Linked DNA regions of Homo sapiens. The protein of the gene in region 5 purifies or fractionates together with the protein of the main gene of each other region. This does not show direct contact. Each region holds a gene or a part of one and is shown on either strand. Other genes may lie near its edges. The genes, in order: SLC44A5, STK39, AHCY, HERC4, HEXA, ARHGAP1 and UBR7.

Region 1 (4,611 bases), on a different chromosome or scaffold from region 5:
AAAAGTCTGGCCTTGTTTTTTGTTTGTTTGTTTCTGAGCCTGTTAAAATCAATTCTCAATAACCGGACAAAGAATTCAAGAGAACTTTATGTACTAGTTAGCTCTTCCTCTGGTTGTAAATGGAAATGAAATGTTTAATGTTTTCCTAGTGCTTCAGTGGTCTAAGGAAAGCCATCTATCTACAAAATATCACATGAACAAACAGTTCAGGTATGGGATGGAAGAAGGAGCACGAGTAAGGTCAAGCACTAAAACATGGTGGACGCAGGGCTCTAGAATGCTCAAAGATCTCTCCTCTCATCTCCAACATTAACCATGGGAGCAATAACTGGAAATCACTATGTGACCTTCCCCATTCTTGTAGCTGAAAATACTTATGAAAATTTGTCTCAGGAAATGTCTAGAACCTACTAGCTTCCAGTCTTTGGAAGTTTTGGCTAATATGTGGATTTTAAGTTTGGCAGTTGATTTTGAATTTTGACAGTAAGAAATGTTTTCCACCATCTTTATTAATTGCCAACTCCTTGAAAGCCAGGTACATCAGCTTGATTCAGTGTATTGCATGTTGACATGAATCATTTCCTTTCAGAGACACTTGTCTGTGATAACAAAGAACAAGGAAACTTAAATTGTGTTTCTCTTCCTCCCCTAGCTGTTACTATGGGCAACATCACACTTTGTAAAATATTCTTCTTAAATGATGCCCTGAGCCAAATTCTGAATGTGTAGATTTATTTATTTATTTATTCCTATTGTCTTGGCTGCCAGAAAACTGGTGATTTTTACAATGCAAACCATTTGTAAACACTTCATTTTTAGAAACATGGAATCTTTTTATTATTACAAGGTACTGAGATTCATCATCTCAGAGTGGGAAAAAAATAATAGTTGTAGATGCTTATTAATGTGATCCAGGCCAGACTTCTTACCAGTACCTTAAGAGTAATAACAAGATAGATATGTTATATACAGCAGTAATCTCTCCTTATCCATGGGGGTTACATTCCAAGACCCCTGGACATGCCAGAATTCTCTAATAGTACCAAACCCAATTGCTGTCAATTGGAACATGTTTCCGTTTATGTCTTCCATCCACAAATGTAATGCCTTTTCCATCCTAACTAAGCACTTATCATACACTGTGGCCATAACTTTTGCAGTTTGAGATACAACAAAACTAGCTTAAAATTCTTTTTTCTTCTTCACAATTTCACGTATAAAAAATTTGTTTTGCCGGGCATGGTGGCTCACGCCTGTAATCCCAACACTTTGGGAGGCCGAGGCCGGCAGATCACTTGAGATCAGGAGTTCGAGACCAGCCTGACCAACATAGCAAAACCCTGTCTCTACAAATAATACAAAAATTAGCCAGGCATGGTGGCAGGTACCTATAATCCCAGCTACTCTGGAGGCTGAGACAGCAGAACTACTTGAAACTGAGAGGCAGAGGCTGCAGTGAGCTGAGATCACGCCACTGCACTCCAGGCTAGGTGACAGAGTGAGACTTTGCCTCAAACAAACAAACAAAAAACCGAAGATTTGTTCTTATGTAGATCTTAGCAACCTCAGTATAAGTTTATTTCTTATTAACTCGAGAACTTTCACCTTTTCACTTAAAGGAAGCATTTTACAGCTTATCCAAATTGCCAGCAACACTAATCTTGCAATTTGGGGCCATTATTAACTAAAATAAGGGTTACCTGAACACAAGCACTGTGATCTTGCAACAGATAACTGAGAAAGCTACTAAGTGACTAAGGGAAGAGCATCCTAGACAGCAAGGTGATGCTGGATAAAGGGAGGATTCCCTGCCAGGGTGGGATAGAGCTTGACGGTTTGAGGTCTCATTATGCTACTCATAATAGTACACAATTTAAAATTAATGAGTTGTTTATTTCTGGAATTTTGCATTTCATATTTCTGGACCTTGGGTAACTAAAACCACAGAAAGTGAAATTGTAGAAAGCAAAACTGGGTAAGAGGGGACTATTGTATAGAAATAGGATTAAGGACAAAAAAAAGCAAAATGTTCAGCGTCTATCATGTTCCCTCTTTTGCTTTTCATTTTGTATGTGAGGAAGGTCACTGTGAGCGCTAGTAGAAATCTACTAAACCAATGACCCAACCATTCCCAAGACTATAGCTACTATCTGCTGTGAATTGTATATATCTGCGGGAGGCTTAATTTCATGCAAATGTATCCTTGTTTGTCAGCATAATTCTGGTGCTTCCTCCCAACTAGCCAGCAGGTGGGTGGTCAGTGAACATGCCATCAATTTAATATTAGCCTAAGCAAAGCTGAAAGGTAAATTAATGTATTATGAGAGTCAGAATACATTGACATTAGCTTTCAAATACAATCTGAGGAAGACCGCAAGAATTTAGGACAGGGTGCCTTATAGTTAAGTAGAACAAGAGCAAAACTAGGTGTCAAGAAGCTGGGTCCCTATCTCATCCTATTTACCTCAGAGCTTTTGACTTCAGCGAGTTGTTTTATATCCCTGGGCCTCAGGGTGTTCGTCTGTAACATCGGAGTATGGACTACCATTAGAAGTGACTTGAAAGTCTGAAATTCCATTATTATTCTACATTTATCACAGAATTAATATACTTCCTATTCAGCTCCATCCCGGAGGATTTGGCAATTTATATCTTTCTGAAATGAACAGTTACAGAATTTAAATATGACACTTTTTTGAAGGGACATAGAATATCTTCTTAGCCTTTAAAGTATCAAAATACATCTCTCTGGGAGTGGGAGGGATTTAGGAAGTTTCAGTGTTTCCTGGCAGAGGTTGAGGTTTCTTACCTTGCCCAGAATCAGCAAGTAAACTGCACTAATTTGTCTTATATTTGACTTTCTAACACTGATTTTTCTGATTTTTCCCTGTTCGACCCTCCAATTTATAAAAATGTGTATAATTGTTCTGCTGCTTCTGCTTTTGCCTGCTTTGGCTGCTGCATATACAGGTGAAGATCTGGAAAGAAATGATGGATCTACAGAAAAACCCTACTTCGTAACCCCTAACCTGCATGGAATTCTGATCAAGAAGCAACTAGTTCCCCAGAAGCAGAAAGAGTAGAAAAGCTCCAAACAGTGTCACTCATTTTTAAGTAGAAGTTGTGTAAATTAGGTTGATTGTAATTTGGAAATGTTGCTTTTGAGTAATGTGAAATTTCTGTGCTTAATTCTAAGAAGTCAGCACCTGGTACTACCTGAGGTGTCAGGTATTTGATGACATTAGCTGCTGTCTACTTTATAGACAGTGGTCCCAGCTAAAGATCAAAATGTTAATGTCAAACGTTTTTTAAAATCTGTAGCCGAGAGTGTTTTAATAACTTTTATAACTCAGCGTGCTGTTTCCATTGCAGCACTTTAATAGCCTTTCTTTTTATAAGTGTATATTTGTAAAGGATATTCAGGCAATTTTTGAAAACACTATAAATGTGTAATTAATTAGCCATAAAATATTGATTTATAGTTAACCAGCATATGGTACTAAATTTGTAAATATGGTGCTATGGTTATATTTATACTGTTCAAGCTGGTGGACAACTCTCTAAACTGTGATTAAACTTGTATTAATGGTTCCCTAGGAAGTATATTTCAGTGAGTCATGTCCATAACAAACATAGATGTTAATGTTATATAGGTTCTACGGAGAGCATTACTGGGTAAAAAATACTATGGAACCTTCAGAGCCCATTCTGTTTTAGTGAAATCATGTTTATATTGAAGTCGAATCTGAGTTCTGGAGTGTCATTTCCAACAACATGAACCTCTGTCCATGGTGAAAATATTCTGAACAAAACTGAAATTGTTACATAACTCATGCCTTTTGTCTTTAACCCAAATTTCTTATTCCCACTATATAGAAAATCAATATGAATTTGTTTCAGAAGAGTGATTATATCTTTTCATGAGTATACCTGTATTTCTAGATTAAAGAGATTGTGTGGCTTTGTTCTACAGAAGGTTTGATTTTGTCTCACCTTTCAGTGAGGAAAGAGAAAAGAAAGACACTTCAGATTTTACCCTAAGGAAATATACTGTTGGCGCTCCATCATCTAATACCTTTATGAGGGGCATACTGTGGGTTAGGAACTCTCTCTCTGCAGGGCTTAGGAGGAAAGTTGTTGCCACCTGCCACCGCTGGCCGCCTGAGGTTTCTGATAGTCATGTGTAAGTTTTGAATGGCAGAACAAAGCATGAATCAGACACACATCTTGCCTAGCCATCCCCTGTGTGCAAATGTGTATGATGTGGTTAACCATGTAAAAATGCACCCCAAAAGGAGCATTGAATCAATTTGTATTTTCTTGGCTTTTACCTTAAACTTGTATATAAGGATTATTTATATATTGACAGAAAGGAACATGTTGATCTGAATATCACTCATATATCCAAGAAAAGAGTCAGAAATGTATTGTTGTGTTATAGATTGATCTAAATACGTATTAATTATCTTCAAGTGTAGACACCTAGATTTAAACTGACTCTGTGGCAGATTAATTAATAGCAATAAGCCAATGAATAGGGAAGATTTTTAATATATAATGACTACCAGCTTGTTCTTGGCTTACATTCTTGAGATTATTGTATTCAAAAGT
Region 2 (4,611 bases), on a different chromosome or scaffold from region 5:
GCAATTGAAGCAACTCTGCACCCTAAAGTCTCTTCCTAAAAGACATAATCCAGGTAAAAATCCATAGTTAACATTAGATATATTTCCACTTCCTTAAAAATACTACCTGCTTACATTACACATTTTAAAAAGTTAGAAAACAGCCGAAAAAGATGTATAGTAGCCATTTATTATTGACAATACCCTTTCAATATATCTGTAATGATACATACATTCAGAGCCTCCACTTTGAACACTCACTTTAAAGTCATAAACAGATGGCTAAATGTCTTTAAAACTCAGAACAAAAATTTCAGGAGCAGAAAACAACAATCCTAATATCTACTCCCTCTATGACTACAGAAGAAATATACAATTTGCTCCTATGTACGGCTGATGTGTATACAGATTATATGTACTCAGTAACAGAACATTTTGAGCAAAGTACATAGTGTGCTTATGTTATATACACAAAAAATTGGTATATTATATTGAGATAGCTTGCATATGACAGTTAGAACAAGGTGGCAGAACTGTAACAGTGAAAAGCTGTCCTTGTTTCCTAAGGGGTACATCTATACAGCCAAAGGGAATGCAGCCAGATTCACTTGGGTACAAAACCACAGACATTTCTCTAGAAACACAGAATCAAAGGCTACACATAAAGTTAGCCAGTCCATCTCCCTGCCTCCAGGAATAACTGGAGGATATGGGTAAATGCTGCTTTAAGAAAAACAACAACAACAACAAATAATGCTGTCATCCTAATAACAAAAAGGGTCTAAGACCTTCTGAATCCATCCACTTCTTTGCTCCTCCACAGCCACTGCCTTCATTTAATCCACCACTACTTCTTGCTAAGATTTCTGCAGCAGCCTCCTAAGTTCCCATCTCCCTTCTTTCCCCAGATCCAGGCTCCAGCAACCAGGCCTTTCTATGTCACAGGCCTGAGCCCTCCTTAAAAGACTTTCAGGACAGGAGCGGTGGCTCATGCCTGTAACCCCAGCACTTTGGGAGGCCAATGCAAGTGGATCACGAGGTCAGGAGTTCAAGACCATCCAGGCCAACATGGTGAAACCCCATCTCTACTAAAAAAATACAAAAAATCAGCTGGGCCTGGTGGCACGCGCCTGTAGTCCCAGCAACTCTGGAGGCTGAGGCGGGGGAATCGCTTGAACCCAGGAGGCGGAGGTTGCAGTGAGCTGAGATCATGCCACTCCACTCTGGCCTGGCAAGAGAGCAAGACTTTGTCTCAAAAAAAAAAAAAAGTCTTTCAAGGCTCCCTGTCCCCTCAGGAAAAAGTCAAAATCCTTCAGCATAACACGTAAACCTATATCACTACTCTCAGATTCAGACAGTAAGCTCCAGCCTACTGAATGACTTACTTTTTATTCCCTGATCCCATCACCTCCTTGGCCTCACCAGCATTGCCCTTGCACATGATGCTTTGTCGTCTAGGTACATCAACCCTCCATGCTGAACAGGTGCACCAGCAGAAGGCTTTCTGCATGACCTTGTTAATGACACAGCATCTCCGGCACCCTGGCTCTTGGTGAGTAATTTGATGTGCATTCATCACCTTTGCGTAATTTGATTTCAGTAACATTGGTCATGGTCTAGTTTTGATGTGTGAATGCTACTAAGCCTTGAGGAGGATCTGCAGGTATGGTTATCTGATTTGGAGAGTGGCAGATCTACTAGGAAACATTACAGGACTAATGGGCAAGATCTGAGTGTTAACAGTGATTAGGCCTAAGGCTAGACTATTACCCAACTGTATGACTCCCGAAAGGGACTTAAACTTTCTGGGCCTTATTGGGCTTCTTATTTAGGCCTATTTTTATTTATTTATTTTATTTTTTTGAAACAGAGTCTCGCTCTGTCGCCCAAGGTGGAACATAGTGGCATGATCATGGCTCACTGCAGCCTCAACCTCCCATGCTCAAGCGATCCTCCTACCTCAGCCTCCCAAGCAGCTATGACTACAGGCATGTGCTACCATGCCCATCTAATTTATTTTTATTTTTTGTAGATATGGGGTCTCTCTATGTTGCCCAAGGTGTTCTCAAACTGTTGAGCTCAAGCGATCCTCCTGTCTCAGCCTCCCAACGTGCTGGAATTATAAGCATGAGCCACCATGCCGAGCCTCAATTTCTATATTACTTTCATATTTATAAGACTCATTTTTTTTTTTACCATGTATGACTATTCTTTATAACAACTGTTAGGTAGATCGATAAGCTACTCACTGCCTTTTCATAAGCAAGGCAAGCAGGCTGAGGGGATAAGCATAAATATTTTACAGTGGCAGAGATAAAATAGGAGAAGACATGTTTCTTGACTTCAACAATATTTGTCGGGCATGATAGTTCATTAGGTGGGTGCGGTGGCATGCAACTGTAATTTCAGCTACTCAGGAGGATGAAATGGGAGAATCGCTTGAGCCCAGGAGGTCGAGGACGCAGTAAGCCATGATCATGCCACTGCACTCCAGTCTAGGCAACAGAGTGAGCCCGTCTCAGAAAAAAAAAAAAAAGAATATTCCCACCTAAGTAGGATAAGATGTATAAAATCAAATACTATATTGTCTGTGTAGAAGCAGAGGAGCTATAACCATAATGGTCATAGAAGACTATCTCCAAAGTGGGTCTTGGAGCCAGCCTTCAAGATGAGGTGAAGACTTGGATGAGCAAGTCCAACAGGAAACAAATTCCAGACAAAGAAACGGCATGAGCAAAGCACAAGTGTGGAGCCAAGAAGAAAAACTGACAGCTGCAAGGGTCAAAAACTCAAAACACCTACAGCAGCCAGGCAGGAATACAATGGAGAAAAGAGGGTCCTGAAAAACAACAGCTACAGTCTCAGTGACAAGGGCCCTTGATGCTCAGTCTCTGTGACGGGAGACTTTAGGAGTGCTGGGCCCTGTGTGAAGCCCTGGAGCCCACTGTCAGCACCCTCCCACCAAGGTCCAAGGCAGGCCCCTGCTGCTTGGCACCAGAAGAAAGTTGCCATAGAGAAATGTAGACCCAGGATTGCTGGATATCCCAGTTTTCCCAAAAAAGCCAAACATTGGAATCTTTATGAAAAAGCTCCCTTTCTTACTGTAGTTGGCAACAAATTCATTTTTAAAAAAATAGAAAAGCGATTTCTCCTGCCTAATTTAGTCCGCAAAACTAAAGTCTGCCAACTGTGTGGTTATGATGTCTAAAATGTACCTAAAATACTTCAACATATGCCATGTGATATTATGTTTGTGATACCACAACCTAGGTGGTCAGCTGGCATTCTAACCAAGAATGTCCAGTGCTGGGGGGGTTCTGATAGCACTCGACTCAGGATGCCAGAGGCAGCTGCTGGAAGTATTTCTATTATCCAAATCTAAATATAGATGAGCATAAGCCAGGTGACTGATTGTCCAAAGGGGTTATTATTAGGGAAAACAGTGACCTGTTGAGAGGTATGATACATGTTAGAAATGGGCTTTCACTGCTGAAAATAAAGGTTCTTAGCACCAGAGAGTGGCTAAAATATTTTAGATATACTCCTTACTCTTGCATGAACAGAATAAAACAATCCAGTCCAGTCCAACTGTAGACTATACCCTAGCCAGTTCTGTGGATGGTTGGATTCCTAGTAGCAAGCATAAGGATAAAGCAAAAACTGCATCTGGAATCTTGGCATGTCTGCCTCTAATGAATTTTTCATTCACCTATGAGGAAAAAGAACTGGGATTTCCTTGAGCTTACAGAACAAATTGTGAGAACTGTTTAGGGGCTTGCTTGCTAATGAAGGGCAAAATTTGGTCTGAAAGTTGATTTCTCTAAAACCTGTAAGGGAAGCTGTGGGTGAGTACCCAAGCCTCACCTACCTCAAACTTCTACAGTATCTGCTATTCTCTTTGAAAAGGAACCTGAGTTGTGCATGAACAACATTGACTCTCTTTGATCAGAGAGTAACGGGATCAATGTTTGAGAGTTCAGAGCTTCCTAAAATGTAGCTACAATGAGTTAAAAGAGACACTGATGCCTAAGTGGCTGGGTGGGAGTCTGGAGCAATAGGAGCCCCCATAGCTTCAGGGGACCCTGAGAGTTCTTTCCTACAAGCAGCTTCTTTTCCACAGAGGCCATTATTTTTAAAAGCAGGGAAGTACTGGGTGAGATTGTTGAGGGGCCCAACCAACCACAGAGTCTGAGCACCAGGTAAGGGAATTTGTACCTGATTCAATTAACAGCTGTTGTTCCCTCTCTCGTTAGAGAAGAACAACATTTGGAAAAAGTGACCATGCAGGGATGTTCAAGAAAGGAAAAAGACTAGAAGCAGAGAAGACCACAACCATAGCCCAGGAGCAAAATCAACAGAGCCTGTATATGAATAGAGAGGTTGGAAATGGAGAGGATTAGACCAATTCTTAAGAAAATACGATGATTTAGTAGATATTGGAATTAAGAAAAGAGGAAGGAATAAAAAGATTAGATGACTTGCCAAGGAACACACAGCAAGTTATCGAAGGTCTGAATAAAATTCACAGTCCTTCAGAAAGGAGTCAGCCACTTAGCCCTAGTCTCCTCTTCCGGAAAGTTCAGTGTATTTTTCTTTATTGAGAAGGAAATGCAAAATGCAATAATGGGGTTA
Region 3 (4,611 bases), on a different chromosome or scaffold from region 5:
ATTAAGAAATGTTGAGCTGGCCGGGGCACGGTGGCTCACGCCTGTAATCCCAGCACTTTGGAAGGCCGAGGCAGGCGGATCATGAGGTCAGGAGATCGAGATTATCTTGGCCAACACAGTGAAAGCCCGTCTCTACTAAAAAAAAAATACAAAAAATTAGCCGGGCGTGGTAGCAGGCGCCTGTGGTCCCAGCCACTCGGGAGGCTGAGGCAGGAGAATGGCGTGAACCTGGGAGGTGGAGTTTGCAGCGAGCCGAGATCGCACCACTGCACTGCAGCCTGGGCGACGGAGCGAGACTCTGTCTCAAAAAACAAAAAACAAAAAAACAACAAAGAAATGCTGAGCTGCAGACTGCACAGTTCTGCTGTGAGAACTTCACGTGCTCACACTTGCTTGGCGCATATGAGGCACTCAGTAAGCAGCAGCTAATGTTATCGTTATGATCACTGTCATGTGCCCTGTACTAAGTCCTTTACAGGTAACTACCACATTTCATCCCAGAAACAACCCTGTGATTTCAGTACTGCTGTCATCCCCATTTCAGATTCAGAAACTGAAGTTTACAAGGGTTAGGTCACTTGTCCAGAGCCACACACTAAGAGGAGGCTGCAATTTGAGTCTGGACGGTCTGAGGACAGATCCCATGTTCTCAATAACCATGAAATAGTTTTGAATGCAGCTTAGCAAAAGCTGAATGCCGTGGCGCTCACATTGGAATCACCTCAGAAGCTTTAAAAAATGAGGATACCCAGGCCAGACGCGGTGGCTCATGCCTGTAATCCCAGCACTTTGGGAGGCCAAGGCGGGGGGAATCACCTGAGGTCGGGAGTTCGGGACCAGCCTGAACAACATGGAGAAACCCTGTCTCTACTAAAAACACAAAATTAGCCAGGCATGGTAGCACATGCCTGTAATCCCAGCTACTCAGGAAGGCTGAGCCAGGCGAATCGCTTGAACCTGGGAAGCGGAGGTTGTGGTGAGCCAAGATCGCGCCATTGCACTCCAGCCTGGGCAACAAGAGCGAAACTCCGTCTCAAAAAAAAAAAAAAAAAAAAAAAAAGATACCTTGGCCTCATTCCCAGAGACTCCTATTCCTGTGGCCCACAGTGTGGCTCCCAGGTGACTGCCAAGGTTGAGAACTCCCGGTTTAGTGAGTGAACGTGACATGGAAATCCCCAGCCTCAGTGCCCCAGTCCTCCGTCTGTCCCAGCTGTCTGAACACACAAACTTGCTTTCTCCCCACTCCCAGCTCTTCCCTTGCCATCCCTCCACCCTCAGGCAGCCTCCCAAACATTTCCCCAAAAGCCCAGGTTTCCAAGCTGCTCCAGAGGCCTAGTACCGATCCAAGGAAAGGTCTCTGATGCCCATCAGGCATTGATTGATGCTTCAATCAATAAGCACTCACTGATACCCATCTAAGCCCCTTGCAGGGACACGTCAACCTGGACTCTACCCTCCTGGTACAACAGTGGGGTCAGAGACCAAAGCCAGTGATGGATGCTGCACTAGGGGTCTGTACTAAGAGTGTGGGCATTGCCTCTGCCAGAGGAGCTGGCCAGGAAGGGGGTCTCTTTTTTATTTTATTAATTTTTTTTTTTTTTTTTTTTCTGAGACGGAGTCTTACTCTGTCATCCAGGCTGGAGTACAGTGGTGTGATCTCAGCTCACTGCAACCTCCACCTCCTGGGTTCAAGCGATTCTCCTGCCTCAGCCTCCAGAGTAGCTGGGACTATACGCATGAGCCACCATGCCCAGCTAATTTTTTGTATTTTTAGTAGAGACAGGGTTTGACCATGTTGGCCAGGCTGGTCTCAAACTCCTGACCTCAAGTGATCCGCCTGCCTCGGCCTCCCAAAGTGCTGGAATTACAGGTGTGTGCCACCGTGCCTGGCCAGAAGGGGGTCTCTTGAGCTGGGCTGAGAAGATGAACAAGGAGAAGGGCATGTGTTCTGTTCCAGACAAATGCAGCTGTCTGGACAGATGAGCAGAAGTAGGAGCTGCAGTGGGTATTCAGGGAGTGGTCAATTATGGCCTGAGTACAGAGGCCCTTGAGAGGACGGACAAGAGATAATGTTGGGCAGAAGGTTGGCAAGACTGTCAAGGATGTTGAGGGTGGGCATAGAGTCCAGCTTTGGAGGGCAGCTTGGCAGAAAGGTGCCCATCACCCCAATGTAGCAGGTTTCACCTGTGATGCCTTTGCAAAAAGGAGGTCTAGACAGATGGCTGTCAGGGGTGTGGCTGCCACAGAAGCACGCCCTGGCCACCCCCACACTGTGATGAGTGCCAGGCCTTCTAGGCAGAGATGGAGGTGCCCTCTGCCTAGCCGGGAACTGACACCCTAGACTAGTGCAGGACCTAGCCAAGGAGAACTCCCACGCAGGAGCAGAGCACCCAAGAGGAGCAGTGTAGGGGATGTGGGTTCATAGAGCTGCCTGTCTGCCTCTCTGGGACTTGGGCTTCTGGTGTGGCTGTGACTGGGTGGGTGTCAGGGCTTTGGCCAACTCTGTGTCTGTATCTTCCTTATCATATCTCAAACACGGCACAGCACCAACTCAAAGAACCTCACATAGGTGGGCTTTTCTCCCTTTAAAAAATGTGGTGGACCTGGTGTGGCAGCTCACGCCTATAATCCCAGCACTTTGGGAGATAACTTAAGCTCAGGAGTTTGAGACCAGCCTGGGGAACACAGCAAGGCCTCGTCTCTACAAAAAATAAAAAGTTAGCCAGGTGTAGTAGTGCACATCTGTAGTCCCAGGTACTTGGAAGGCTGAGGCAGGAGGATCAGCTCCTTCAGCCCAGGAGGTCAAGGCTGCAGTGTGCCATGATCATGCCACTGCCCTCTAGCTTGGGTAACAGAGTGAGCCCATCTCAAAAAAAGAAAAAAAAAATGATGAACATCTCTACATACATATTTAATTATCCTAAGGACCAATTATAGGAGAGATTGCCCAGTCAAAGAGGTTGCTTAACTTTAAAGCTCTTGATATCCAAAGCCAAAATGTCTTCCAGAAACATACTACTTTTATAATCAGAGAAAAAAATAAACTCATAATAATTGCAACTCAAGTAAAACTTCACACCCCCTATAAGAACTCATCTTCCAGTTTCAGTGCCCCAATGCCCAATGCAAACCTGTTCTTTCCCAGCTCAGTGCATGGGCCTGCTCCTCACACAGTGATTCAAGCTGTGTCCCTTTTTGTTTTTTGTTTTTAGTTTTGTTTTTGAGATGGAGTCTCGCTCTGTTGCCCAGGCTGGAGTGCAATGGCGCAATCTCGGCTCACTGCAACCTCTGCCTACCACGTTTAAGCGATTCTCATGCCTCAGCCTCCCGAGTAGCTGGGATTACAGGCACCCACCACCATGCCCAGCTGATTTTTTTGTTTGTTTGTTTTTGAGACAGAGTCTCGCACTGTCACCCAGGCTGGAGTGCAGTGGAACAATCTCGGCTCACTACAACCTCCATCTCCCGGGTTCATGTGATTCTCCTGCCTCAGCCTCCCAAGTAGCTGGGATTGCAGGTGCACATCACCACACCCGGCTAACTTCTTGTATTTTTAGTAGAGACGGGGTTTCACTATGTTGGCCAGACTGGTCTCAAACTCCTGACCTCGTGATCTGCCCACCTAGGCCTCCCAAAGTGCTGGGATTACAGGCATGAGCCACTGTACCTGGCCTTTTTTTTTTTTTTTTTTTTGAGATGGAGTCTCACTCTTATTAACCAGGCAGGAGTGCGAGGGTGCGATCTCGGCTCACTGCAACCTCCGCCTCCCAGCTTCAAGCAATTCTCTCCTGCCTCAGCCTCCCAAATAGCTGGGATTACAGGTGCCCGCCACCACACCCGGCTAATTTTTCTATTTTTAGTAGAGATGGGGTTTCATCATATTGGTCAGGCTGGTCTCGAACCCCTGACCTCATGTGATCCGCCCGCCTCGACCTCCCAAAGTGCTGGGATTACAGGCATGAGCTACCGCACCCGGCCCAGCTAATTTTTTTGTATTTTTAGTAGAGACGGGGTTTCAACCATGTTGGCCAGGCTAGTCTCGAACTCCTGGCCTCAGGTGATCCGCCCATCTCGGCCTTCCAAAGTGCTGGGATTACAGGTGTGAGCCACCATGCCCGGCCAAAGCTGTGTCCTTTGTTACTCTGCCTCCATCCTGACCCCACATGCCGTCCATCCACCCCAGCACTCCCTAAGCTGAGGCTGCCATCATCCCCTGCAGGGATTCTACGAGCCTCCTCTAAAAGCCTCTCTCCCCACCACCCGCCATTGTTGCTTTTATTCTGCACACAGTAGCTAGAGTGATCTTTCTAAAACTACAGCCTCACCACATACAGCTCACCTGCCTGATACCTTCAGGGATGCCGGCTGCCCACAGGATAAGGTTGCCACGTCTGGCTGGCTCTGATGCTAGGCCCTCTTCTCCCCATCCCCCTGCACAGGTTGCCACCATCTCCTCAGCTCTCCTCCCTGGCAGCCAGCACTCCTCTGCACTCCCATCTGCCCAGCCCACTGGCAAGGCGGGAGCTTCTCACCTGCGGCTTGATGTTCACCTTCTCCACGGCGTTCTCGTTGAGCCACTTGACATCGATCTCCACGTCAAAGTGTCCAATG
Region 4 (3,500 bases), on a different chromosome or scaffold from region 5:
ATGTTCATAATTACAACTAGGACCCAATCTCTTTCACAAGATAACCACTTACAGCTAACAAAAACCATATAATGCAAACTAACAAATTATATTCTTCATAAGGAAATATAAGGAGAATTCTAACTCATTAGTATGTTATTGTTCTGCCCAACTATGGATAAGTTATCTATACATGCCTAACAAAGTCAGGTAAGACCAGAGCTCCAAAGGACAGGTTTATTACTTCTTTTAAGAGAAAGTATAGATAACTTTTCCAAATTTCTATAATATGCATTGTTTTTGCCAATCTAAATCTTTAATAGATTAATGTTAAAATGAACAGTATCAATCTGTTAATAGGAATGGGGAAAGAGGAAAATAAAGGAATGATTGGACATACCCTATGTAGTATTTCTAAAACCTTTAATGCAGTATGAAGAAAACTGTTGAAAATTCTTCTTTCAGAAGGGGGAATACCGATCTTGTAGAGTTTCAAAAGATGTACCACAACTTCCTTAAAAAGTTCTACTATCTTGAGGAATAGTGGAGGTTCAAGTACTGACCACCAGTTTTCTGTTATTAAAAAGTGAACATGCAAATAAAATGAATTTTTTAAAAAATCACAATTTTCAAAATCATACTGACTTTTTTTCTGAAACAGTAGTTGTTAAACCTGAGAAAACCCCAGAAAGATGCATATAACACAATATCTTATGTAACATTTGTAAGGTTTATAAACCTCCCCCCGACCAAGTTAAACAATATTGTCCGAAAAGCTCTCAAAAGCAAAAATAAAGTGTGAAAGTCTTGTTGAATTTATATTCTTGGTTTCCTAAGTTATATAAAAAACTCACCACTATACCTAATATTAAAACCAGTTTTTAAAAAATGTTTTGAAAATTACAGTTTCAATTTTTAAACAAAACATCCTTTAAATTGTATTGCTCTAATACTAAAGGATCTTTCTAACTTTTATCTTTCAATTTAATATATGGTTGAAATATTGTGAACCACTACCTTTAAAATGCAAGGTACTCCTGAAGATCAAATACAGAAGCTGAACAATGTAAAGTGTAACATATGGGTCCTTCCCCACATTCACTATTTGTAGTTACTAAGTACAAACACTTCAATCCTATGAAGCAGGCAGAAAGAATACAAAAACTTCTGACAACAGGAAAGCAATACTCTTTTCAGTCCCTGCTTGACTCTTTTTCCCTCAGATTCCCATATTCTACCCCTTGCTTGTTGCTTCCTCCATTTACCCTCAGCCTTAAAGTTCTTGTACTGACATTATTACTTCTATATATCTCAGCTCCACATATCTAACAAATACCATTAGAAAGAAAAGCACTGGGTTAAATGTAGCAAAAAAAGTATAAAGGCCAGGAAATAGAGATAAAATCTAGACAATTAGAAAAATTAAAGTGAGAAAACTTTATGCCAAAAAACCAGAACAGTAAGAGATAGAAGTGCAAGATCAGATGAGCAATAAAATCTAGTCTATAGGCAGAAAAATAAAATCAAATATCATGAAATTAGCAAGTGAAGGAAACACAAGATAAAGGGCTTATATCAGGGTTCCAAGAAGATTTAAAGCCCATGTTTGTTCAGTTTTAATTGTTCCTCCTCCTTTACTTCTTTAATAGCAAGATTATACTAAAGGCGATGAGGGAAAGGAATACGGGTGACAGTTTTTAACTTTCCTAATACTGTCTCTGCTGTTATGTTTAATTGAACTTCTATATCTAACATGTTTTTCTTTCAACAACTCCAACAACTAGAATCAAAAGACTAGACAAAAGCAAGAAAAGGAAAAACAGGTTCATTTTTGCCTAAGACAGTGTCAAATAAGCAGGGCAGCAGAACTGCAAATGGCAAAAGAACTTATGAAGCATTTTCATTTAAAGAGAAAAGGTTTCAAAAGAAAAAATATTAGAATTCTTACCAAGTACTTTCAGTGGTGCCTTTTCTAGGTTCACAAGAGCTGTACCAAAGGGAATTGCTATTGTTGTGAAATTGTTGGAATCACTCATCAGGGGACATTCTGGTAGAGTAAGATAAAACCTCAATGCTTCAACATCAGGTAAGGAGCTAGTCAGTTTAGGAATAAGATTCTTTTCCAAACTAGCTGCCACCTATATTTTGACAAAAAGTAAAACCTACTTCATTTAAAATGAATACACTTTCAAAGAAAAAAAAAAAAAAGGAAGGCAGGAAGAAAAGAAAGAAAAGGAAAATTTTGCACTACAGCAAATATGAAATGGTGAAGAAGAAAAAAGAAAGACAATGTCTTACAATGAATATACTTTGGAGCACAATGAAAATTAATGCCTAAGCATTACTTGGAGAATTTAAAAAATCACGTGTACAAGTCTCAATTTAAACTCTCTACCTCTATAACCATACACAAACTTAAGCAACGTGGTAATGTTAAGTAATTCAGGGTCTGCTTCAAACATCTGAAAAGATTTATAGATCTTTGACAGCTAAATTACAAATGCTTTAAAATAAAATCTTATTTTAAAAGCACATCGTAAGAGTCTGTGAAACTGCAAAGTAAATTAGGCTATAAACGTATAAAACAAAAGAAAACAAAATCAACAGATAATACTGTAAACATAATACTTTAAAAACAGACCTGCTGAGATATCTGCGGATGATCAGGTTGTATAAGTTTGTGGAATAAAAGCCTAGCAGCATTCATATCAACCCCTGAAAATCTGGTACCTGTTCTATAGTGATCATCATTGCTAAAAAACAGAAAAGAAAAAAAAAAATAGAATAAAAATTTAAAATTATTTCATTTTTTAATTTGATATACTATTTAAGACAATAAATTTGAAAATTTCAGCATATTAAAGAATTGCCACTTACCTAACAGCTAAAAAACTTCCATTTAGGCAACCAGAGGAAGAAAACGTTCCATCTATCTCACTAAAAAATTTAAAAAAGTTTTTTTAATCATAGAATCAGAAATTTAATTGTTTACCCTTTCTTAAAAAAGAATTAAAATGAATAATTAATCTAATGTTTAATGCTACAGAGCACTCCTCTAACACCCAATTAGATGAATCAGAATTACATAAATTGCTAAAGACTGATAAAATAATACTTGATGAAGGTATTACTGTTTATTCTAGACTTTCTTAAATATTACTTTCATCCATTTATCCAATGTTATCTGCTTTAAAACATGGTATTTTAAAAATTAAGTGTGTATGTTCATGTAAAAAGTTTTTTAATTTAAAAAAATTTTAAACATTTTATATTGGCAGTGAGCCTAATCTGGGATGCCTTTGGGATTTTCAGAAAAATTATAGTTTTGGAAAACAAGCTAGAGAAACAAAACAGCTTTTCAAATACAACCCATCATCCCAAATACCAACAAAAAACAAATAACATCTTAAGTGCTACTAGGCAAGTTAACAAAATATTCAAGAAAGAAATAATACTCAAGTCTTCCACAAAGTATAAAAGTTAAGATAGTGACCATTATAAAACCAGAAGGAACACATTTC
Region 5 (4,601 bases):
GAGATGAAGTTAAGTCATTAGTCCAGTGACTGCCTCCTGTCTTCCCTGAGCAGCATTTGGGGACTTCTCAGTCTCCAAAGTGAACAGTTGAGTTTGGCTCCTTCCTCACATTCTTGGAGGAAGTAGCTGAAGCATAGAGGAAGGGGAAAGGAGGGTGATTACAAAGGCATTGGGAGCATCGCGTGCTGCACTCACCCCTGCAGGCATCCCTGTTCCCTTTGCCAGGAGAAGACTTCTTTCATCTTTCTGCTGTGGAAACTGACCCATGAGGTAGGTGGTGCTTTGTACAGACCTCCACTCCAGCCTGACTCTTGCTGTACATCATCATCCAGGGTCTACAGAGTCACTGTGGTGACCACCCTCCCACTCTGGCCCCAGACCAGGCCATCCTACAGCTGTCTTGCTCTGGGGACATCTCCTCATTGAAAGATTTTTTAAAATATATGGTCTTACTGTTTTTTTTTTTTAGTCCAGTGATTTATATAGAATATCTGGTCTATAATCTGAGAATAGAAAACCTTAACCAACTAAATGAGTTCATTTCTGTCATTTCAGATACCCTGACCATAAATGATGACCAGTGTTTACTCCTCTCTGAGACTGTCTGGGGAGCTCTCCGAGGTAACAAATTGGGGCTGATTAAAAGAGAGAGAGAAAGGATGATGTGGGAAGGTTGGTGTTGGTGGAGTGCAGTGGCCCAGTCCCTGCTCACTGCAACCTCTGCCTCCTAGGCTCAAGCAATCTTCCCTCTTTAGCCTCCCAAGTAGCTGGGATTACAGGTGCCTGCCACCATGCCCAGCTAATTCTTGTATTTTTAGTAGAGATGGGATTTCACCATATTGCCCAGGCCAGTCTTGAACTCCTGAGTTCAAGTGATCCACCCATCTCGGCCTCCCAAAGTTCTGGGATTACAGGTGTGTGCCACCGCGCCCAGCCAGGAAGCTTTTTTTATGGGAACAATTGGCGTGTTTTCCCGTCTCTGTGGAATTGTCCCTGGAAGTTGACAGGTTTTACCCTGTGCAGCATCAGCAACTGCTGCTGCCCTAGTCAGGGGCTCTGGGAAGCAGTAGGAGAGTCTGTGGGCTGATGTTCTAGGTGCCAGCAGGGGACAGGTAGCTGGGGGCAGGGGGAATGATGCTACCACAGACACTGTCTGTCCAGCTCTTGCTAAAGACATGTAATTGGAAAGGTTTTTTTAAAAGGAAAACTATAACAAAAGAAATAGATACATGCAAAAAAAAAGATAAATAGTAGTGAAATATTTAGAACTACATTATTTCTGGAGAAAATGAGTTTACTGGCTAAACTATTGGCCCTTGCCCTTCTTCTGGGTTTACTGAGAAGGCATTTGGTGCCTAGATACAGACTTAGCCAAATATCTCTCCCACTTTTGGTAAACCCTCTGCTGGTGAATGATGTGGGAAACTCTCTCGGAATTCCACACCTTGCTTTAGTTTGTCTTCATTCCCTTGCTCCACTTCTATGCTTGGAGCAACAGCATGCTGCCTCCCCTTCCTGCCCTCTTGTACCTTTCATGCAGGTGCTGATGGTGAGTCAGGCTAGAGGTAAGGGAGGACCTGGAACTCCAGAATGCTGGGTGTCAGAGTCAGAGTGGGGAGAAGCCAAAACAGTACACTAGCAGTCTGCTCAAATCAGGTGCTGAGTGACTGCTGAGGTCTCATGGATTCTTTCACTTTGAAACTGGGGACTCTGATAATTTTCATGGGGCTTCTGCAGGGTTTCCAGAAGAGGGGCCCCAGCTGTTGAGAACATACAATACTCTGGGTTCAACATACCTGTGTGTGGGCCTTGCTAGACTCTAGGAGACAGTGTCAGTGGACTAGGGGAGTCCTTCTGGGGCAGTTGCTGTCCACCACACCTCAGCTCCCTATAGCTGGGTCTCTTCTTAGACTCTGAAGAGGAAGAGTGGATGATTTTTTTTATCTTCTAGGTCCAGCCATGAACCCAGGCTCCTTGGAAACCCAAGCTTATGATCACTTTCTCACAATTTATTCTGGGACCCCTTTTCTCAGCTCTCTTAGCTCCTGATAGGGGTTATCCATGAAAAGTCCAACTCTTGCAGGCTGAGTTGTCTCTGTGTCTGTCCTCATGAGTATATGTCTTGGCCTCTCTTCTCAATATTCTTGTGAAGGCACAGGAAATATAGATAAGAGGTATGTGGGTTTTGAAGGTTAGTATGTTGTAAGGAAGGGCACTAAAACCCTTACTCTGACATCTCCCAAAATGAAATACAGAAGTAAAGATGGATAGTGGCTTCCTAATATCCCCTTTTCATCAGTGTTAAAAATCGTCAAGCCTACACTACATCCATTTTCCCTGTGTACCCAAATGTTATGCTCTGCTACATTGAGAACCTTCCAAATAGAGACATCTCTTTTTCCACTCCCTGAGTCTTTACTCTGCCTCTCTACATCTTCCTAGGTCTGGAGACTTTTAGCCAGCTTGTTTGGAAATCTGCTGAGGGCACAGTAAGTGTGGACCCTCAAAAAGGGCTCCTTTTTCATCTCTGGGGTTGGATCCCAATATTGAGAATCCTAGAAAAATCTTGTTTTGCCTTAGGATCCTGGTGGCTTGAGATAGCCCCAGTAGAAATGGAAGAGGAGATGTGAGTGGAAAACTGGTTTGGTAGATTTGGTCTGTTTGGAATCACTGTAATTTGGTCCCCCTGAGTCATCATTTAGTAATGACCTTGAGGCCACACTGCTTTGAAGAAAATAAACTATGTTAACAGGAAAATCCAGAATTTGTAGGCTGAGTGGTGTTTGGGACAGTTGTATTAGGCTGGCGTTGGACAATTGCTCTCTGGGAAGGTGGCTGCTTATGGTCATTTATAGAGGTGGGGAGCATTTAGGGAGAGAGCGACCCTGAGAACAGTCACAGATTGGCTTTTTAAGAATCCTGGGAGAGTTGTCTTCATCTCCCTGTGCCCCCATAGTAAGCTTCCTTTGAAACTGACATGTTCAATGTTTGTTCTGCACAGTTCTTTATCAACAAGACTGAGATTGAGGACTTTCCCCGCTTTCCTCACCGGGGCTTGCTGTTGGATACATCTCGCCATTACCTGCCACTCTCTAGCATCCTGGACACTCTGGTAACCAGGCCTTAAGGCCTTCTTCACACTTAAGAGTTCTAGGGTGATGGAGCAACGGACAGACCAAGTTCCAAATTCTTAAAGAGTTAGAGAGGGAATGTATGGACTGGGTGTGGTGGCTCATGCCTGTAATCCCAACACTTTGGGAGGCCGAGGTGGGCGGATCACCTGAAGTCAGAAGTTCAAGGCCAGCCTGGCCAACATGGTGAAACTCTGTCTCTACTAAAAATACAAAAATTAGCTGGGCATGGTGGTGCATGCTTGTAATCCCAGCTACCTGGGAGGCTGAGGCAGGAGAATCGCATGAACCCAGGAGGCAGAGGTTGCAGTGGGTGGAGATCACGCCACTGCACTCCAGCCTGGGTGAAAGAGTGAGACGCTGTCTCAAAAAAAAAAAAAAAAATTGTATGTAATTCTATGAGCTCCTGGGAAAAATGTAGAAGATGAGCTGCTCCAAGACTCAAAAAATAACAGAGTGACTTAAATCTACCTTACAGGCTACTGTAGATCAATGTTCAGGCTGTTTCCAGGGATACAAATGTTTAGGGGAATTGGCTTCATTGGCAGAGCTAACTATATTTGTTTTTGAGACAGCGTCTCAATTTTTTTTTTTTTTTTTTGTATTTTTTGTAGAGCTGGGGTTTCGTCATGTTACCCAGGCTGGTCTTGAACTCCTGGGCTCAAGCAATCTGCCCACCTTGGCCTGCCAGAGTGGTAGAATTACAGGCATGAGTCACTACACCTGGCCGGCAGAGCTAACTTTAGTTAGAACAAGGTCATAGGAGAGAGACGTTCAAAGCCTTAACTTGGGGCCAGGTGCAGTGGCTCACACCTGTAATCCTAGCACTCTGGGAGGCCAAGGCGGGTGGATTGCCCGAGCTCAGGAGTTTGAGACTAACCTGGCCAAGACGGTGAAACCCCATCTCTACTGAAAATACAAAAAATTAGCCAGGCGCGATGGCGCAAACCTGTAGTCCCAGCTACTCAGGAGTCTGTGATGGGAGAATCACCTGAGCCTGGGGAGATCAAGGATGCATGAACTGTGATTGCACCACTGCACTCCAGCCTGGACAACAGAGACCCTGTCTCAAAAATAAATAAATAAATAAATAAGTGAAGGAAGGAAGGAGGCTGAGGCATGAGAAGCACTTGAACCTGGGAGGTGGAGGTTGCAGTGAGCTGAGATTGTGCCACTGCACTCCAGCCTGGGTGACACAGCAAGACTCTGTCTCAAAAAAAAAAAAAAAAAAAAAAAAAGCCTTTCCTGGGGAAGTTCCTAACTCTCTTGAGTTTAATGTGCAGTCTTATCTGACAGTTCCCAATCCAGTTCCTGTGTCTGCCTTTTCCTTTGCTCCTGTGACGGAACCAAAGGAGGCCACACATCTGCCAGCCTTTGCTTCTGAGATTATGAGTTAAGAGGCTACTAAGTTCCCAGGAGGTCTCACAGTTGGGCTTAACATCAGTCAGACAACCGAACACAAATGGCAAG
Region 6 (4,611 bases), on a different chromosome or scaffold from region 5:
GCGTTTGTATTCTTGGCGCCTGCCCTGATCTGGGTTGAGGGCCTTGGCTCTGGCCTCATTCACCCCCTGCAGAAGCAAAGCTGAGAGTTTTTTCCCCAGTCTGGTCCTGAATTGGGCACGGGAAAGTCACCTTGAAGGTTCTGAACTTGACTGGAGTCTGGGGGGTACCTGATGTGAAGGAGTCTCTGTCCTGACATCATCCTGGCCTGTTTGGTCAAGGCAGAGCTGGGGGAGCCTGCCCCTCCCCACCTCCGTGGGTGACACCTCCTTCCCCACAACCCCCGCACAGAGCTGCAATTTGTTTCTATTTCCCTAGACTACGATGAGCCTGAGGGGGCCCAGCCAGGTAGGTGTCCGTCCTGGCTCGCTGTGCTTGTCCTCTTTGGACTGCAACCTCTGGGGCTGTGGATCAGGAAGGGCTCTCGGTGGAGGCCAGATGGGGCTAGCTTAATTGCAGTCTCACCCTGGGGAGCTGGGAGTTGGTGGTGCCTGGGAGTCGGAAATAGCAGAAGATTTATGGGAGGTAGGATGGGGGTGGGGGAGGCTGTGTGGGGACACACCCAGGCCCCAAAGGGAAAGGAGCTTGCGGGAGGGTCTGGCCTTGGGCAATGGCCTCTGAGTGGTGGCTCAGGGACCTTCTGGGTGATGGTGTCCCCATGGATGTGCCTCCCTGATTGCTGAGAGGAGGCTGGATTGGCATCACCAGGCACTCATTTGGTGAGACCGTGGAGATGTCCGGGAGAAGCCCTTGTAGGAAGGGAGGGTGGGTTATAGCCTCAGCTCTCCCTGCCGGGAATAGTTGTCATGCCCCAGGGTCAGATTTGGCTCAGTCCCAGTGGGTTCTTTCCAGTGGTGTGCTGGTAAATGGCTCTCTGGAGAGGGGGAAAAAGGCCATGATTTGTAGCATTTGCAGTTTCTGCCTCCCAGCTCTCTAGCTACCAACATGATGTCAACTGGCTTGCAAAATTCCTGACAGTTGAACAGCTTAACAAATGTGTGAGCTGGCTGTAGCACATGACTGGCTCCATCAGCCCAGCCCTACCTCCCAGGTCCCAGGCCTGCTGGTCCGGTTGTGGGTGGGGCTGGTTTGAGGGGGCCCAGAATGCCTGGGGAGACCTGTTGGTGATTAACTCCAGGGCCACCCTGGAGTTAGGACCAGCCTGGGCAACATAGTGAAACCCTGTCTCTACAAAAATAATAACAATAAATTAGCCAGGTGTGGTAGCCTGTGCCTGTAGTCCTAGCTACTTGGGAGGCTGAGGTGGGAGGATCCTTTCAGTCCAGGAGTTGGAGGCTGCAGTGAGCTATGATTGAACCACTGCACTCCAGCCTGGGTGATAGAGCAAGATCCTGGCTCAAAGAAAAAAAAAAAAGATTACAGTCTAGTGAAGTGGTTCTTAAAACTGGTCACAGTCCACTTTGCAACTATGAAAGGTATCCCCAGGATAGGGGGGATCTCTTTGACTGAAAAAAAAAAAAAGTGCAGCCAGGTGCGGTGGCTCACACCTAGTAATCCCAGCACTTTGGGAAGCCAAGGCTGGTGGATCACGAGGTCAGGAGTTCGAGACCAGCCTGATGAACACGGAGAAACCCCGTCTCTACTAAAAATACAAAATTAGCTGGGGTTAAGGCCAGGCGCGGTGGCTCATCCCTATAATCCCAGCATTTTGGGAGGCCGAGGCGGGCGGATCATGAGGTCAGGAGATCGAGACCATCCTGGCTAACACAGTGAAACCCCGTCTCTACTAAAAATACAAAAAATTTTCTGGGCGTGGTGGCGGGCGCCTGTAGTCCCAGCTACTCAGGAGCCTGAGGCAGGAGAATAGCGTGAACCCGGGAGGCGGAGCTTGCAGTGAGCGGAGATCGTGCCACTGCACTCCAGCCTGGGCAACAGAGCGAGACGCCGTCTCAAAAAAAAAAAAAAAATTAGCTGGGTGTGGTGGTGCATGCCTGTAATCCCAGCTACTCAGGAGGCTGAGGCAGGAGAATCGTTTGAACCCAGGAGGTAGAGGTTGCAGTGAGCTGAGATCACGCCACTTCACTTCAGCCTGAGCGACAGAGCGAGACTGTCTCAAAAAAAAAAAGTGCACATGCTTGTAATATTTGTCATATAACATCATGGAGGTGCTGTGTCTGCTGAGCACATTGGTGGAGCCCTGGTTCAGAACCCAAAGCTTCCCACTTACAAAGTGCTGTGGCCAGCTGAGAGGAGACACCACAGGCCTCCAGCCCTCCCCCCAACAGCTTCCCTAACCAGTTGCTACCTCTTATATTTTAGACCCAGGGGCCTCACAGACTTTCTGCCCTGGCTGAATCCTCAAATCTGCCAGCCAATGAGGCCTGCCTTGCTGCTGGTGCAGATGTGAGGTGCGGGGACTCATGGGCTGGAAGGAAAGATCCTTTTGGTAGCCCCCATTGTCCTCGAGCATTTCCCCCAAATCCTGGTTATTTCCTCGCTTAGAAGGAGGTAGGCAGATGAGGCCCCCTCTTCCCAGGCTGGTGGTAGGCATCTCTGGGGTTTCTGAAGCTCCAGACTAGTGAGACTGGGCTTGCCAGTCTAACCCTTTGTCCCTGGCCCCTGCCAGTCTGCTTTTCCTTCCACTGTCAGAGCCAGTGGGAAGTGAATCAGAGCAGGCACATAGCCCCAGAGCCACCCCCAGCTGGCCTCCGGGATCTCAGCACCTCAGGATCTAGGCTAGGGTACGAAAGAGAGCAGGTACCACCTGGTCCTTCAAAACAGACCTGCCGGGATGGAGCTGCACCTCCTCTGCAGACAAGCTGGTAGAGGATTCTCTACTTGCAAATCTGGAGACGTTCTGTCCTGAGCTTTGGGAAACTCACTATCTGAAGCAGTCTGACCCATAACCAAAGCATAATCAAGAACAAACACAGAGGCCAGGTGCTGTGGCTCATGCCTATAATCCCAATACTTTGGGAGGCTGAGGCGTGCAGATCATCTGAGGTCAGGAGTTGGAGACCAGCCTGGCTAACATGGTGAAACCCTGTCTCTACTAAAATACAAAAATTAAGGCTGGGCATGGTGGCTCACACCTGTAATCATAGCATTTTGGGAGGCTGAGGCGAGCAGATCACCTGAGGTCGGGAGTTTGAGACCAGCCTGACAAACATGGTGAAACCCCGTCTCTACTAAAAATACAAAAATTAGCTGGGTGTGGTGGGACATGCCTGTAGTCCTAGCTACTCAGGATGCTGGGGCAGGAGAATCACTTGAACCCGGGACGCAAAGGTTGCAGTGAGCCGAGATCGCGCCATTGCACTCCAGCCTGGGTAACGAGCAAAACTCCATCTCAAAAAAAAAAAAAAAAAAATTAGCCTGGTGTGCTGGCACCTGCCTGTAGTCCCTGCTACTTGGGAGGCTGAGGCAGGAGAATCTCTTGAACTTAGGAGGTGGTGGTTGCAGTGAGCCCAGATCACTCCACAGCACTCCAGCCTGGATGATAGAGACTCCATCTCAGAAAAAAAAGAAGAACAAACACAGAAATATAACTAGAACCAGGCATCCCATAGTTTAATGGTGACCTGCGATTTTGTGCAGGCTACCAAAACGTATTGAATACCTGCCACATGCCAGACACTGGACCAGTACTGGAGACTGTAGGTGCCATGGTACGCAACTGTAATCCCAGCTACTGGAAAGCTGAGGCAGGAGTTCAAGACTAGCCTGGGCAACATAACAAGATTCTGTCTCAAAAAATTGTTTTTAATTAAGCAGGTGGGATGGCATGTGCCTGTAGTCCTAGCTACTCAGGACATGGGAGGCTAAAGCAGGAGGATTGTTTGAGCCCAGGAGTTCAAGGCTGCAGTGAGCTACAGTTATGCCACTGCACTTCAGCCTGGGTGACAGAGCAAGACCCTGTCTCTTAAAAAAAAAAAAATCACAGCTTGCCAGGAGTAAACAAAGAAAAAGAACAAACAAAGACAATGAGACACAGCCTCTGTCTTTGAGCTGCTCACAAGCCTGTCAGGGAGACAGGTACATAAACAATTCTACAGGAGAGTGAAGGGTCAGGACAGTGATGGGTGACGGTTTATGCTGGGAGCCATGAAAAGGGGCAGCTAACCTGTCTGGGGAGAGAGGGCGAGGACACAGGATTCCAGGCGGCGATTATGCCTGCATTGAGTCTTAAGGGTTGGTGGGGGCCCTAGAATATCTTAATGAGAAAGGATAGAATGCTTAGAAACCTACAGAAGTCAATCAGAACCAGTGTCGTCCATAATTCTAGTAATAAGCTGGGTGCAGTGGTGCACACCTGTAGTCTCAGCTGCTTGGGAAGCTGAGGTGAGAGGATCACCTAAAGCCAGGAGTTCAAGAACAGCCTGGGCAACACATTGAGACCCCCATCTCTTTTCTTTAATTTTGTCTTTTTTTTTTTGAGACGGAGTCTCGCTTTATCACCCAGGCTGGAGTGCAGTGGGGCGATCTCGGCTCACTGCAAGCTCCGTCTCCTGGGTTCATGCCATTCTCCTGCCTCAGCCTCCCGAGTAGCTGGGACTACAGGTGCCCGCCACCACACCTGGCTAATTTTTTTTTTTGTGTGTGTGTTTTTAGTAAAGACGGGGTTTCACCATGTTAGCCAGGATGGTCTCGAT
Region 7 (3,500 bases), on a different chromosome or scaffold from region 5:
ACCTCAGGTGATCCACCCACCTTGGCCTCCCAGAGTGCTGTGATTACAGGTGTGAGCTACCATACCCAGCTTAATTGGGTTTTTTAAATTGATCTCCTGCCTCTCCCTTCATTTCCTCTCCCATCAGCAGATGGCTTCATCTCCTATTACATTGAAATGCTGGCATCCAATGTGAGCTCCCCTATCGTTTCTCTTCTCTGTCTCAGAGTATATCTGCCACTACACCCATCATTTTTTTTATTTCTTCCTCCCATAAAGAAAAGCTGTTTTTAAAAAATTACCCTTCTGTCTGTGTTTACAATTCAATCTCTTCCTCCTGCTTCTTGTATTATTCTGTCTCTAACAAGTACAGTACAATATTTTCTCCTTTATGTGTAAAGTGCTTAAGCAGTGATTGATATTTTCAAATAAACTGTTTAATTATTTGAATTCTTTGGGTTAGGCAGACATAACCTAAAGAAGCGTTGGAATTTTCTTTCTCAGTATTTCGGAGACTACGGTGGACTAATCTCTTTTTCCAGATTCTGAAATATTTTAATATCAGAAAAAGTGATTTTAGGTCAGATGTGGTGGCTCATGCCTGTAATCCCAGCACTTTGGGAGGCCGAGGCAGGTGGATCACCTGAGGTCAGGAGTTCCAGACCAGCCTGACCAACATGGAGAAACCCCATCTCTACTAAAAATAAAAAATAGCCAGGCATGCTGGTGCATGCCTGTAATCCCAGCTACTCAGGGGGCTGAGGCAGGAGAATTGCCTGAACCCAGGAGGTGGGGGTTGCAATGAGCCAAGATCACGCCATTGCACTCCAGCCTGGGCAACAAGAGCGAAACTCTATCTCAAAAAAAAAAAAAAAATAGCAAAAGCTATTGTATGCCTGATGTGGTGGCTCACACCTGTAATCCCAGCACTTTGGGAGGCTGAGGCAGGCAGATCACTTGACATCAGGAGTTCAAGACCAGCCTGGCCAACATGGCGAAACCCCGTCTCTACTAAAAATACAAAAAATTAGCCAGTCATGGTGGCACGCACCTGTAGTCCCAGCTACTCGGGTGGCTGAGGCATGAGAATTGCTTGAACCTGGGAGACAGAGGTTGCAGTGAGTCAAGACCATGCCACTGCACTCCAGTGTGGACGACAGAGTGAGACTCTGTCTGTAAAAAAAAAAAATAATAATAATAGAATAAGTGATTTTATTGTCTGTTGGGATTTTATTGTCCGTTAGGTCAGTGGATATGTGTGTATGTGTTTTTCTTTTTCTTTGAACTCACAGTAACCAAAATATCCACTGAGGATGATGGATTGGTGCGGAACATTGATGGAATAGGTGATCAGGAAGTTATCAAACCTGAAAATGGAGAGCATCAAGATAGTACCCTCAAAGAGGATGTTCCAGAACAGGGAAAGGATGATGTCCGGGAGGTTAAAGTAGAGCAGAACAGTGAACCATGTGCCGGCTCTAGTTCTGAATCTGATCTCCAGGTAATGTGTGAAGTACGAGCCATCAAGAAATAAGACTGGGCCAGGCGCGGTGGCTCATGCCCATAATCCCAGCACTTTGGGAGGCTGAGGTGGCGGATCACCTGAGGTCACGGGTTTGAGACCAGCCTTGGCAACATGGGTAAACCTCATCTCTACTAAAATTACAAAAACTAGCCAGGCATGGTGGCACATGCCTGTAATCCCAGCTACTCAGGAGGCTGAGGCAGGAGAATTGCTTGAACCCAGGAGGCGGAGGTTACAGTGATCCGAGATCATGCCACTGCACTCTAGCCTGGGCAACAGAATGAGATTCCGTCTCAAAAAAAAAAAAGAAAACTGAAGTGGAATTAATTCTGTAAACTTATGGCTTTGGATTTCAATTTTATCCTTTGCCTAAAGAAATCTCTTTACAAAATCTAAACTATGAAAACTATGGTAGTTTAAAAAACATGCTTCAAAACTTAATTTTATTTCAGACAGTGTTTAAGAATGAAAGCCTCAACGCAGAATCAAAATCTGGCTGCAAACTTCAGGAGCTTAAAGCTAAGCAGCTTATAAAGAAAGACACTGCCACCTATTGGCCCCTGAACTGGCGTAGCAAGTTGTGTACCTGCCAAGACTGTATGGTAAAGTATCTGATTGTGCTCAGTGTTAGCATGTTTTGTGTACTGGTGCCCCAAAATAAGAACACCTGGGGAAAACATTCAATTTTTGTACCAGAGGAAGAAAGGAAAATAAAAAGAACACCTGAACAATATATTTATGAAATTAATGTTTAGGAGACCCTCCAAATTTTTACATTAAGCAAATTTATGACATAGTACTTACAGTTGGAATGTTTGTGGAAGAAATGGATAATTATGCAGTATTTTAAATTTACTTATTTTAATTTTAGTTTACTTATCTTTGTTATATCAAAGTTGCTTGGAAACACTGGTTGAAAGTTATAGTAAATTGGCCAGGTGCTTTGGCTCACGCCTGTAATCCCAGCACTCTGGGAGGCCAAGTTAGGTCTCGATCACCTGAGGTCAGGAGTTCGAGACCAGCCTGACCAACATGGTGAAATCCTGTCTGTACTAAAAATACAAAATTAGCTGGGTGTGGTGGCACATGCCTGTAATCCCAGCTCCTTGGGAGGCCAAGGCAGGAGAATCGCTTGAACCCAGAAGGCGGAGGTTGCAATGAGTCGAGATCATGCCATTGCACTCCAGCCTGGGCAACGAGTGAAACTCCATCTCAAAAAAAAAAAAAGTTAACAGTAAATCAATGGTTTTTAAATAAAGATCTCATAGACCATATGACATCTGGGAAATTGGGAGATTTCTGAAAGAAATTTAGGCAAAAAGAATAAATCCTTCTAGCAATTCTGTGTTAAAGACGCTCCAGTTTTTCTAGGTCTTAATATAAAAAAATTACATTTTTAGTGATTCTCAGGAAATTGGCTTTCTGAGAATGATAAACAGTTCTAATGGGGAAACTCCTCTTTCTTTTTTTTTTTTTTTTTTCCCTAAAGAAAATGTATGGAGATCTAGATGTCTTATTCCTGACAGATGAATACGACACAGTTCTGGCTTATGAAAACAAAGGGAAGATTGCCCAGGCCACTGACAGGAGCGATCCCCTAATGGATACCCTTAGCAGCATGAATAGAGTCCAGCAAGTGGAACTCATTTGTGGTAAATACTGTGTGTGTGTGAAAATTCATCATTTCCTTCACTATGTAAAAAAATATAAAGGGGGCAGTAAACACCTATATTTTTAATTTAATACAAAGAATTAAAATTTTGAATTTTAGACCATTGCTTGATTTTCATATTGGTGGGTATTCAGCTGCTTTTACCATTGAATCAGAGTTACATGCTAGAATAATTACATGCTTGAGAAACCACAACATATGCTATTCTGATTAAGGGTAGATGGATGAATGCAAATTTTCCATCCATTGAAACAATTTTTGGACATTATGTGTCATGTTCTTGAGCAAGGCATGTCACCATTTTGACAGTTCTTGAGGTTGCTT

Evidence for each region.
Region 1: the proteins of HEXA (region 5) and SLC44A5 fractionate together in Homo sapiens (co-fractionation; one large-scale study listed by BioGRID). This does not show direct contact.
Region 2: the proteins of HEXA (region 5) and STK39 fractionate together in Homo sapiens (co-fractionation; one large-scale study listed by BioGRID). This does not show direct contact.
Region 3: the proteins of HEXA (region 5) and AHCY fractionate together in Homo sapiens (co-fractionation; one large-scale study listed by BioGRID). This does not show direct contact.
Region 4: the proteins of HEXA (region 5) and HERC4 fractionate together in Homo sapiens (co-fractionation; one large-scale study listed by BioGRID). This does not show direct contact.
Region 6: the proteins of HEXA (region 5) and ARHGAP1 fractionate together in Homo sapiens (co-fractionation; one large-scale study listed by BioGRID). This does not show direct contact.
Region 7: the proteins of HEXA (region 5) and UBR7 fractionate together in Homo sapiens (co-fractionation; one large-scale study listed by BioGRID). This does not show direct contact.

The regions. Positions count from the first base shown.
Region 1 is NC_000001.11:75,205,079-75,209,689, reverse strand, and holds part of SLC44A5 (choline transporter-like protein 5), read left to right. Parts: intron 1-2,970; coding exon of another isoform or gene 2,971-3,083; exon of another isoform or gene 3,084-3,972; intron 3,973-4,611.
Region 2 is NC_000002.12:168,142,480-168,147,090, forward strand, and holds part of STK39 (STE20/SPS1-related proline-alanine-rich protein kinase), read right to left. Parts: intron 1-4,611. UniProt on the Homo sapiens protein: Effector serine/threonine-protein kinase component of the WNK-SPAK/OSR1 kinase cascade, which is involved in various processes, such as ion transport, response to hypertonic stress and blood pressure.
Region 3 is NC_000020.11:34,285,800-34,290,410, forward strand, and holds part of AHCY (adenosylhomocysteinase), read right to left. Parts: coding exon 4,533-4,611; intron 1-4,532. UniProt on the Homo sapiens protein: Catalyzes the hydrolysis of S-adenosyl-L-homocysteine to form adenosine and homocysteine. Binds copper ions.
Region 4 is NC_000010.11:67,988,284-67,991,783, forward strand, and holds part of HERC4 (probable E3 ubiquitin-protein ligase HERC4), read right to left. Parts: intron 2,917-3,500; coding exon 2,857-2,916; intron 2,733-2,856; coding exon 2,621-2,732; intron 2,118-2,620; coding exon 1,928-2,117; intron 553-1,927; coding exon 380-552; intron 1-379. UniProt on the Homo sapiens protein: Probable E3 ubiquitin-protein ligase involved in either protein trafficking or in the distribution of cellular structures. Required for spermatozoon maturation and fertility, and for the removal of the cytoplasmic droplet of the spermatozoon.
Region 5 is NC_000015.10:72,351,579-72,356,179, reverse strand, and holds part of HEXA (beta-hexosaminidase subunit alpha isoform 2 preproprotein), read left to right. Parts: intron 1-555; coding exon 556-621; intron 622-2,442; coding exon 2,443-2,489; intron 2,490-3,001; coding exon 3,002-3,112; intron 3,113-4,601. UniProt on the Homo sapiens protein: Hydrolyzes the non-reducing end N-acetyl-D-hexosamine and/or sulfated N-acetyl-D-hexosamine of glycoconjugates, such as the oligosaccharide moieties from proteins and neutral glycolipids, or from certain mucopolysaccharides.
Region 6 is NC_000011.10:46,690,170-46,694,780, reverse strand, and holds part of ARHGAP1 (rho GTPase-activating protein 1), read left to right. Parts: intron 1-4,611. UniProt on the Homo sapiens protein: GTPase activator for the Rho, Rac and Cdc42 proteins, converting them to the putatively inactive GDP-bound state. Cdc42 seems to be the preferred substrate.
Region 7 is NC_000014.9:93,217,256-93,220,755, forward strand, and holds part of UBR7 (putative E3 ubiquitin-protein ligase UBR7), read left to right. Parts: intron 1-1,271; coding exon 1,272-1,480; intron 1,481-1,956; coding exon 1,957-2,106; intron 2,107-2,993; coding exon 2,994-3,156; intron 3,157-3,500. UniProt on the Homo sapiens protein: E3 ubiquitin-protein ligase which is a component of the N-end rule pathway. Recognizes and binds to proteins bearing specific N-terminal residues that are destabilizing according to the N-end rule, leading to their ubiquitination and subsequent degradation.